2 linked regions of the Homo sapiens genome follow. The protein of the gene in region 2 purifies or fractionates together with the protein of the main gene of each other region. This does not show direct contact. Each region holds a gene or a part of one and is shown on either strand. Other genes may lie near its edges.

Region 1 (3,717 bases), on a different chromosome or scaffold from region 2:
TAAGATCCCTCATAAATGACTATGTTATAGCTGAGACCTGCAGCGGAACTCCCACCACCAAATGTTGTGGTAGTGTAAGGACCATTGTTATTTTCACTTGCAAATATTCCTGATAGGTCATATTTTAAGCTGCTAAAAACTGATACAAGCTGTTCATTCTTTCAGGGATAAGGTGACAACCAGCAAGAGAAAAAAACAAGGTAATGCACTTGAGACAGTAAGGTAGGCTCTCGGAAAAGGAGGGCTGTGGTGATCAGAGCCCACGGACGTCCAAAAATGTGACTTGGCTGGGCCTAAAAGAGGGGAGCGGCTCTTCTAAAAACAAAATCACCCCCTGGAAATTATGTTGGTTGGTTCCTTGGGGCATTGAACGGTTCTTTTTCAAGTTATTTACTTGCTCGTTACCGCCAGTCCCAGCTTTCTTGGGAGACCTAAACATATTTGGGGAATGGAAATAATGTGCTTGCTGCCACAGACCAGGCCAGTAAGATGAGAAGATAAAGAGTTTCTAGAGTTTTTATTATTCAAAATGAGTTTCATTTCAATTCAGGTACTTGAAAGAAGGTTCTAGTCTGTTACTTTGACACAGCACAAGATCAGTAGTTTATTCCAATGAAGTATTCCACCCAAATGAAAGCATAACATGCAAGTAGTTATTTATTTCAATCACTCCTATTTGAAGGTCCTCATTTTTGGAGAACAGCCAGGCATTTTATTATCCACTCTTTCCATTCCTTAAAGGCTTCCACGGGTTTCGGTAAATTCCCATTATCCTCGTGACTGTGTTCTGGAGTTGCTCCAGGTGTGTCAGAAGATTCATCATCAATCCACCTCACCAGTGCCTGGAAAAACATGAAAGATGCGCACTTCAACAAACCACAGCAAAATACCATCAGGCAAGAGAGAAGCATTGGCTTCTAGATCATAGGGTGACATATTACCCCATGAAGACGCTGCATTTGATAATGATGGTGTGAATATGAAATAATGCTAATGATATACTGAGTGAAATGGCACGTACCAAATACACACAGAATTACAAATGATGTCAAAAGTACGCACTGAAAAAAGATGAAAAAGAAATACACTCATTCTTACACTTTGTTTCTAGCATAATAGGATGTTATTTTTTCTCAACTTGCTAAATATTCCACAAGGCATTATATTACTTTGACATGTACGTATATACATATATAAGTGTCCACACAGGCATGGGTAGACATATGTATGTGAAAACACATGTGTAGACATTTCTGTGCAGTCACCTGAATGCAGTCATACCCATGAGTAGACACATGAATGTATATTGATGTTTGTGGGCAAGTGTGGGCACACACACACACATACTGAGATTAGGTACTTTCCTTCTTCCTTTTTAAAGAAAATCATTTTTTTCCTCCTAATGAACATCATACCTCTGTCCCATATTTGGAAAGGTAAATCCTGTCCACACACTTATAGGGTTTAAAAAATGAACTCTGCCACACATATCAATATTTATTCTGTTCTGCAAAGTCAAGCTCTCTTGCCCTAAATGGAAGAGAAGCAAAGAAACTTCTTCCACTATTTCTCATTGAACTGTAAGCATAAATCACTCAAAGGCAAGCTGAAGTTTTTAAGAAGAGCATTTCTTCACATTTTTAAACCGCAGCTTCCTGCTTATCTTTACACTAATTTCCTCTGATAAATTATAACTCCAGAGAAGGATATAATAGAAACATGGGTTTGCTACTCAGATAACCACTTCCCCCTCTTTAGACTGTCCACCCCCCAACTTACTTTGTATCTTTCTACAATGCTGAAGCCAACAGCACACTGCAACTTGTGCAAACAGATAGGGCAAAGGTTTAGAGGGCGCCGGTCAGCTTCTTCCAAGTGGTTGGAGCCTTGCATGAGGCATGCAAGCCACTGGCAGTGTCGCAGTCCAAATATGTGTCCGATCTCATGGGTTAAAGTCTGCAAGACAATCATGTTGAGGCTTTATAAGACCACCATCACATTAGGCTACACGTCTCTTCTTTTTCTTGCTTTTCCAAGAAACATAGGAATCAACTCCCTTACCATTACCACCAAAACTTCACCCTGTCCAGACCTTCAAAGACTTAATAATCCCTCATTTCCCCAAATGTCTTACTGCCTTTCTTGCTATAGACTTCCTCAACCTCAACATCGCTGACATGTTGGACCGATAATACCAGGTTGTGGGAGGCTGTCCTGTGCACTGTGCGATGCTTTGCAGCATCCCTGGCTCTACCCACTAGAGGCCAACAGAACTCCCTCCCTGATTGTGAAAATCAAAAATGTCTCCAGACGTTGCTAATATTCCCTGGATGGCAAAATCACCCCTGGCTGAGAACCCTTGATCTACACTAGGGTACTTGTTGTAATTCTGATTCTGGGGCTCTTCCCCTAGAGATGCTGATTTCAGTAGGTCTGGGAGAAAGGGGGCTTGATCTGCATGCTAATGAGAACATCAGGTGGCAATGACACAGGGGGCCCATGAAACACACTGTGAGAATGTAGTTCTCAGAGGTGTAGCTGTCAAACCCCAACAAATAGTACAGGTAAAAGCAGAATTTCTCTAGCTGAAGGAAAAGCCCATCTCTCTGGCTATGGAGAAAGGGGAGATAGGCTTTCCACAAAACCGAGTTGGGGATATCAGGAACTGCCAGGACAACTACAGTCGAGGGTAACCTGGAGCCCAGGGCAGGAAGGCCCAGGCTCCCAGAGAGGCCAGAGCAGAGGTTCTCCAAAGGCCTGGGGAAAGCAGCTTTGCCCAATGACCACAGTAGCTTGAAAAAGTAGGTTACCCACTCATACCAGAATTCAGAATTACACTAATAGCACATGGGTACAGCCAAGGCTGTAACTAGTAGTACAGAAAAACTGGCACTGATATTGTAAATTTCAATATGAAGGTATCCATTTAAATTGTTTTACTGATCATTTCAGTCAAGCACTATGCACCAAAATTATACAAATGATACAAACTCATTTATAATATTACCTTACGGACTGACAATATACAGTTTACGGAACTAAGATCTCTTTTAAAGAACTGTCCTGTCAGATTTTTGTAATAACTTACCTTACAGGATCGAAGTAGTAAAACACTAGTTATTTCTGGAATATAATAGTTGTCGAAAATTGAATAGTCACTTGAAGATGTTTTCTTGAGCTTCTTCACTTTGCCTTTATAGTGCATGCTATAAAAATCACTGCCATACCTGGCAAAGCTGAATATCCCCACACCTACAAAAAAAGGACAAACAGTGACAGAATGAGAGTAAGGTCCCTGAAGAAAGACCAAAGAAAGAAGAGACTGCTGGCCCATCTGGCCAGTGAGTGCATCTCTGTGTCACTGTGTCCACACCATCTGATACACTTATGGTTTGCCACCAAAAAGGAAGACTTTTGCCCCAGATTTCCCTATCAAAATCTTTTGCTGCTATCCACTTTGCCTTGCCTTGTAAAACTTAATGGACTTGAGGTCAAATGCTTGAGAAACTGAAGTTTCAGAGAGTCTTTTCCCACAAAAGAAGTCTTTTTCTGAAAGTAGCAAGTACTCCAAATCAAGTACTCAAAAAGGAATCATAAAAAATAACCACATGGGTTGGGCGTGGTGGCTCACGATTGTAATCCTAGGACTTTGGGAGGCCGAGGCAGGTGGATCACCTGATGTCAGAAGCTCAAGACCAGCCTGGCTAACATGGTGAA
Region 2 (4,320 bases):
AGGAAGACTGCCTGAGCCCAGAAATTCAAGACCAGCCTGGGCAATACGGTGAGACCCTATGTCTTTAAAAAGAGAGAAAAAAAAAAGACTGGGCGTGGTGGCTTGCGCCTGTAATCCCAACACTTTGGGAGGCTGAGGCAGGCGGATCACCTGAGGTCACGAGTTTGAGACCAGCCTGGCCAACATGGTGAAACCCTGTCTTTATTAAAACTACAAAAATTAGCCAGGCATAGTGGTGCATGCCTGTAGTCCCAGCTACTCAGGAGGTTGAGGCAGAAGAACTGCTTGAACCCGGGAGGCAGAGGTTGCAGTGAGTGGAGATTGTGCCACTACACTCCGGCCTGGGTGACAAAAGCAAGATTCTGTCTCAAAAAAGCTGGGTGTGATGGCATGCACATATAATCCCAGTTACCCAGGAGGCTGAGGTGGGAGGACTGCTTGAGCCCAGGAGGCCGAGGCTGCAGTGAGCTATGATTATGCCACTGCCCTCCAGCCTGGGCTCAAGACCCTATCTCAAAAGAAAAAAGAATCAAAAGTAATTCCCTTAAAGTTTATAGGCTGTACTATTCACAACAGCAAAGACATCTAATCAACCTAAATGCGCATCAATGAAGGACTGGATAAAGAAAACGTGGTACATATATACCATGGAATACTATGCAGCCATAAAAAAGAATGAGATCATGTCCTTTGCGAGGACCTGAATGGAGTTTGAGGGCATTATCTTTAGCAAACTAACACAAGAACAGAAAACCAAATACTGCATGTTCTCACTTATAAGTTAAATGATGAGAACACATGGTCACATAGAGGGGATCAACACACTGGGGCCTATTGAAGGGTGGAGGATGGGAGGAGGGAGAGGAGCAGGAAAAATAACTGATGAGTACTAGGCTTAATATCTAGGTGATGTACAACAAACCGCCATGACACAAGTTTTTTTTTTTTTTTTTGAGACAGTCTTGCTCTGTCGCCCAGGCTGGAGTGCAGTGGCACGATCTCGGCTCACTGCAAGCTCTGCCTCCCAGGTTCACACCATTCTCCTGCCTCAGCCTCCTGAGTAGCTGGGACTACAGGCGCCCGCCACCATGCCCGGCTAATTTTTTTATTTTTTTAGTAGAGACGGGGTTTCAGCGTGTTAGCCAGGATGGTCTCAATCTCCTGACCTCGTGATCCGCCTGCCTCGGCCTCCCAAAGTGCTGGGATTACAGGCGTGAGCCACTGCGCGCTTGGCCTCATGACACAAGTTTACCTACGTAACAAACCTGCACACGTACCCCTGAACTTAAAAGTTAAAAAAAAAATTAAAAAAGAAACATCATATTGTTAAAAAAAAAAAAAGTTCAGAGGCTGTGAACTGGCATCTCCTTGGGCAACTGGAACATTTAACATGACTTGTATAGAATTTTAAAAATCAAAGGGCTGGGCACGGTGGCTCATGCCTATAATCCCAGCACTTTGGAGAGCCGAGGTGGGCGGGTCACCTGAGGTCAGGAGTTCAAGACCAGCCTGGCGAATGTGGTGAAACCCTGTCTCTACAAAAATTAGCCAGGCATGATGGCAGGTGCCTGTAATCCTAGCTACTCAAGAGGCCAAGGTAAGAGAATCGCTTGAACCCGGGAGGCGGAGGTTGTAGTAAGCCAAGATCGCGCCATTGCACTGCAGCCTGGGGTGAGAGAGTGAGAACTCTGTCTCAAAAAAAAAAAAAAGAAGAAAAAAAAAAAAGAATTAAAAAAATTTTCCAGCCTATTTTGACAAAATCAGGAGCTATGGCAGCAATGACTGTTTATTACTGAATGGCAACAAATGGCTGGAGCTGGGTTGCTACCACATCTGTTCTAGTTTGCCACAGTCCTCTCCGCTTCTTAATATTTCAAATCTAGATTGCTTCACTTATTTGTAAGACCTGAATGACCTCTGTAAGCTTTTGGTTTGTAATCCTGTAAATCAGCAACCTAATGGTAACAAAGCTACCATTTCACTGGGTTCCTAGCCTGCCACTTTACAGAGACTGTCTCAGTTATTTCTTACCATATCTTTTGAAGGTAGGCATTATTATTATCCATGTTTGATTGCTGAGGATCACATGAACCCAAGTCACACAGTCAGTCTGCATGACTATATCTATCAACTCCCAAGTTCTCTATCTGTGCTAGTTTGCCTCTGGTTATGATTTTCTTCATTTCATTTAACAAACACTTATAGTACAGTTACTAAATTAATAAGTTTACAAATATCACCTTGCTCATCTAAATAACAATCCTGTAAGAACAAAGATCTGTAAGAAATTGCCTTTTTTGCAAATCAATATTACAGATGTTGGCAATTTCATATGGTTCAACTTAATGCTTATTATTATCCCCATTTTATAAAAGGGGAAACAGCCACAGAAAATTAAGTAACTTGTCCAGAGCCAAGCTCAGACTAAAACCCAACAGGCTGGTTCGAGTTTTGTTCCTGACCAGCATATTCAGCTGCCTCTCATCACAAAAGGGAACTTTACACATTGTGGCAGCATCAGATTATCAAACAGGTAAAGTTTTGGACTGATGCTTCTCCTGGAGGCTACCTCAAAGTACTGAGGCCAGAGACATATTTGTGTCCCCCAGGATGACCCCTACCTGCACTGGTCCATTCATGAGACTTTCCCAGTGCTGGGGTGAGATGTACTTCTGCAGGTACTGTTCCCGTAGGACACCACGCATGGTGCACTCCAGGGTCTTGGCTCCTTCATGAAGCTCTTGCTCTGACTCCTTCATCTGTGTCATGATCTTCCAAGAACAGAGGGAAAGAAATGATGAGGAAATATCATCATCCCCCAAACTCAGTCCTCACCTTGAGGGAAAGCAAAGCTAAGACAGGAACAGTAAGGAGGGAGAATAAATAAATAGACTGGTCAACAAACCAATTTCCCAAGGCACATTATTGTGGTCTTGAAACCAAAGAACTAGTATCGGTTGAGTGTGGTGGCTCATGCCTGTAATACCAGCATTTTAGGAGGCCAAGGCAGGTGGATCACTTGAGGTCTGTAGTTCAAGACCAGCCTGGCCAACATGGCAAAACACTGTCTCTACTAAAAATGCAAAAATTAGCCAGGCGTGGTGGCAGGTTGAATATCCCTTATCCAAAATGCTTGGGACTAGAAGTGTTTCAGATTTTGGAATATTTGCGTTTATACTTACTGGTTGAGCATTGCAAATCTGGAAATCCAAAATGTGAAATAATGTTGGGCCGGGCGCGGTGGCTCACGCCTGTAATCCCAGCACTTTGGGAGGCCGAGGCGGGTGGACCATGAGGTCAAGAGATCGAGACCAGCCTGGCCAACATGGTGAAATCTTGTCTCTACTAAAAATACAAAAATTAGCCAGGTGTGATGGCGGGCGCCTGTAATCCCAGCTACTCAGGAGGCTGAGGCAAGAGAATCGCTTGAACCTAGGAGGTGGAGGTTGCAGTGAGCCGAGATTGTGCCACTGCACTCCAGCCTGGGTGACTGAGCAAGACCCTGTCTCAAAAAAAGAAATAATGTTGGCACTCAGAAAGTTTTGGATTTGGATTTTCCAATTTGAGATGCTCAACCTACACAACAGAAAAACAAACAGGCCAAGAATACTGTGGGAGAGACTTCAAGGCTCACAATATCTGTTCTCTCTCTTTTCCTTAGTAATAAGAACTCAGATTTTTGACTGGGCACATTGCTGCCCAGCTAAAAGATGACATTTCCCTGGTCAGTTGGCTGTACACAGAGGTGCTGTGGGTGGTATGGGGGAAGGAGCGTTAAGGTAGGGTGGGGATGGGCAGTGTTTCCTTGTCTTTTCTCCATCTTGGATTGTGAAGGCAAAGGTCATACCAAGGGATTGGCAGAATAGAATGCTGAAAGGAACCTGGGTCCTCCAGAGCTTTGAGGAGCCTCCAAATCTACCCTGGGCTGCCTACCCAGAAAGCCACTGCTATCTTGTTTAGGTCCCTCTTGAACTACCCCAGATATTTCAGAGCTGGGACTTACACTCATGTAGGCCCTTCGGAGGTGCATGGGGAGGTTGCGGCGGAATTCCCGCTTGTTCCTCAGCTCCCTTAGGGTGAACTGCTTCAGGATTTCACTGTTGCTCCTTCCACCCACCCGCACAATGCTGGTCTTCTGACAATTGTAGATGCCTGTGGAACAAAGTGGAGCATGGCAGGGTTGAGAGGAGCTTATGCTAGGTTCTCTCAGGTGAGAGCTGTGTGTATTTGGGATCTAGTCTGGTCCCTTAGAGAATAAACTTGTGCTTAAAGGAAATTTACCCCATTAATGAGTGAGAAGGTCCCCGAGAAGATGTGACC

Evidence for each region.
Region 1: the proteins of ZNFX1 (region 2) and AMZ2 purify together in Homo sapiens (affinity purification with mass spectrometry; one large-scale study listed by BioGRID and IntAct). This does not show direct contact.

Annotation. Positions count from the first base shown.
Region 1 is NC_000017.11:68,253,939-68,257,655, reverse strand, and holds the end of AMZ2 (archaemetzincin-2), read right to left. Parts: intron 3,253-3,717; coding exon 3,089-3,252; intron 1,957-3,088; coding exon 1,780-1,956; intron 843-1,779; coding exon 687-842; 3' UTR 501-686; downstream 1-500. UniProt on the Homo sapiens protein: Probable zinc metalloprotease.
Region 2 is NC_000020.11:49,260,713-49,265,032, forward strand, and holds part of ZNFX1 (NFX1-type zinc finger-containing protein 1), read right to left. Parts: intron 4,153-4,320; coding exon 4,004-4,152; intron 2,772-4,003; coding exon 2,622-2,771; intron 1-2,621.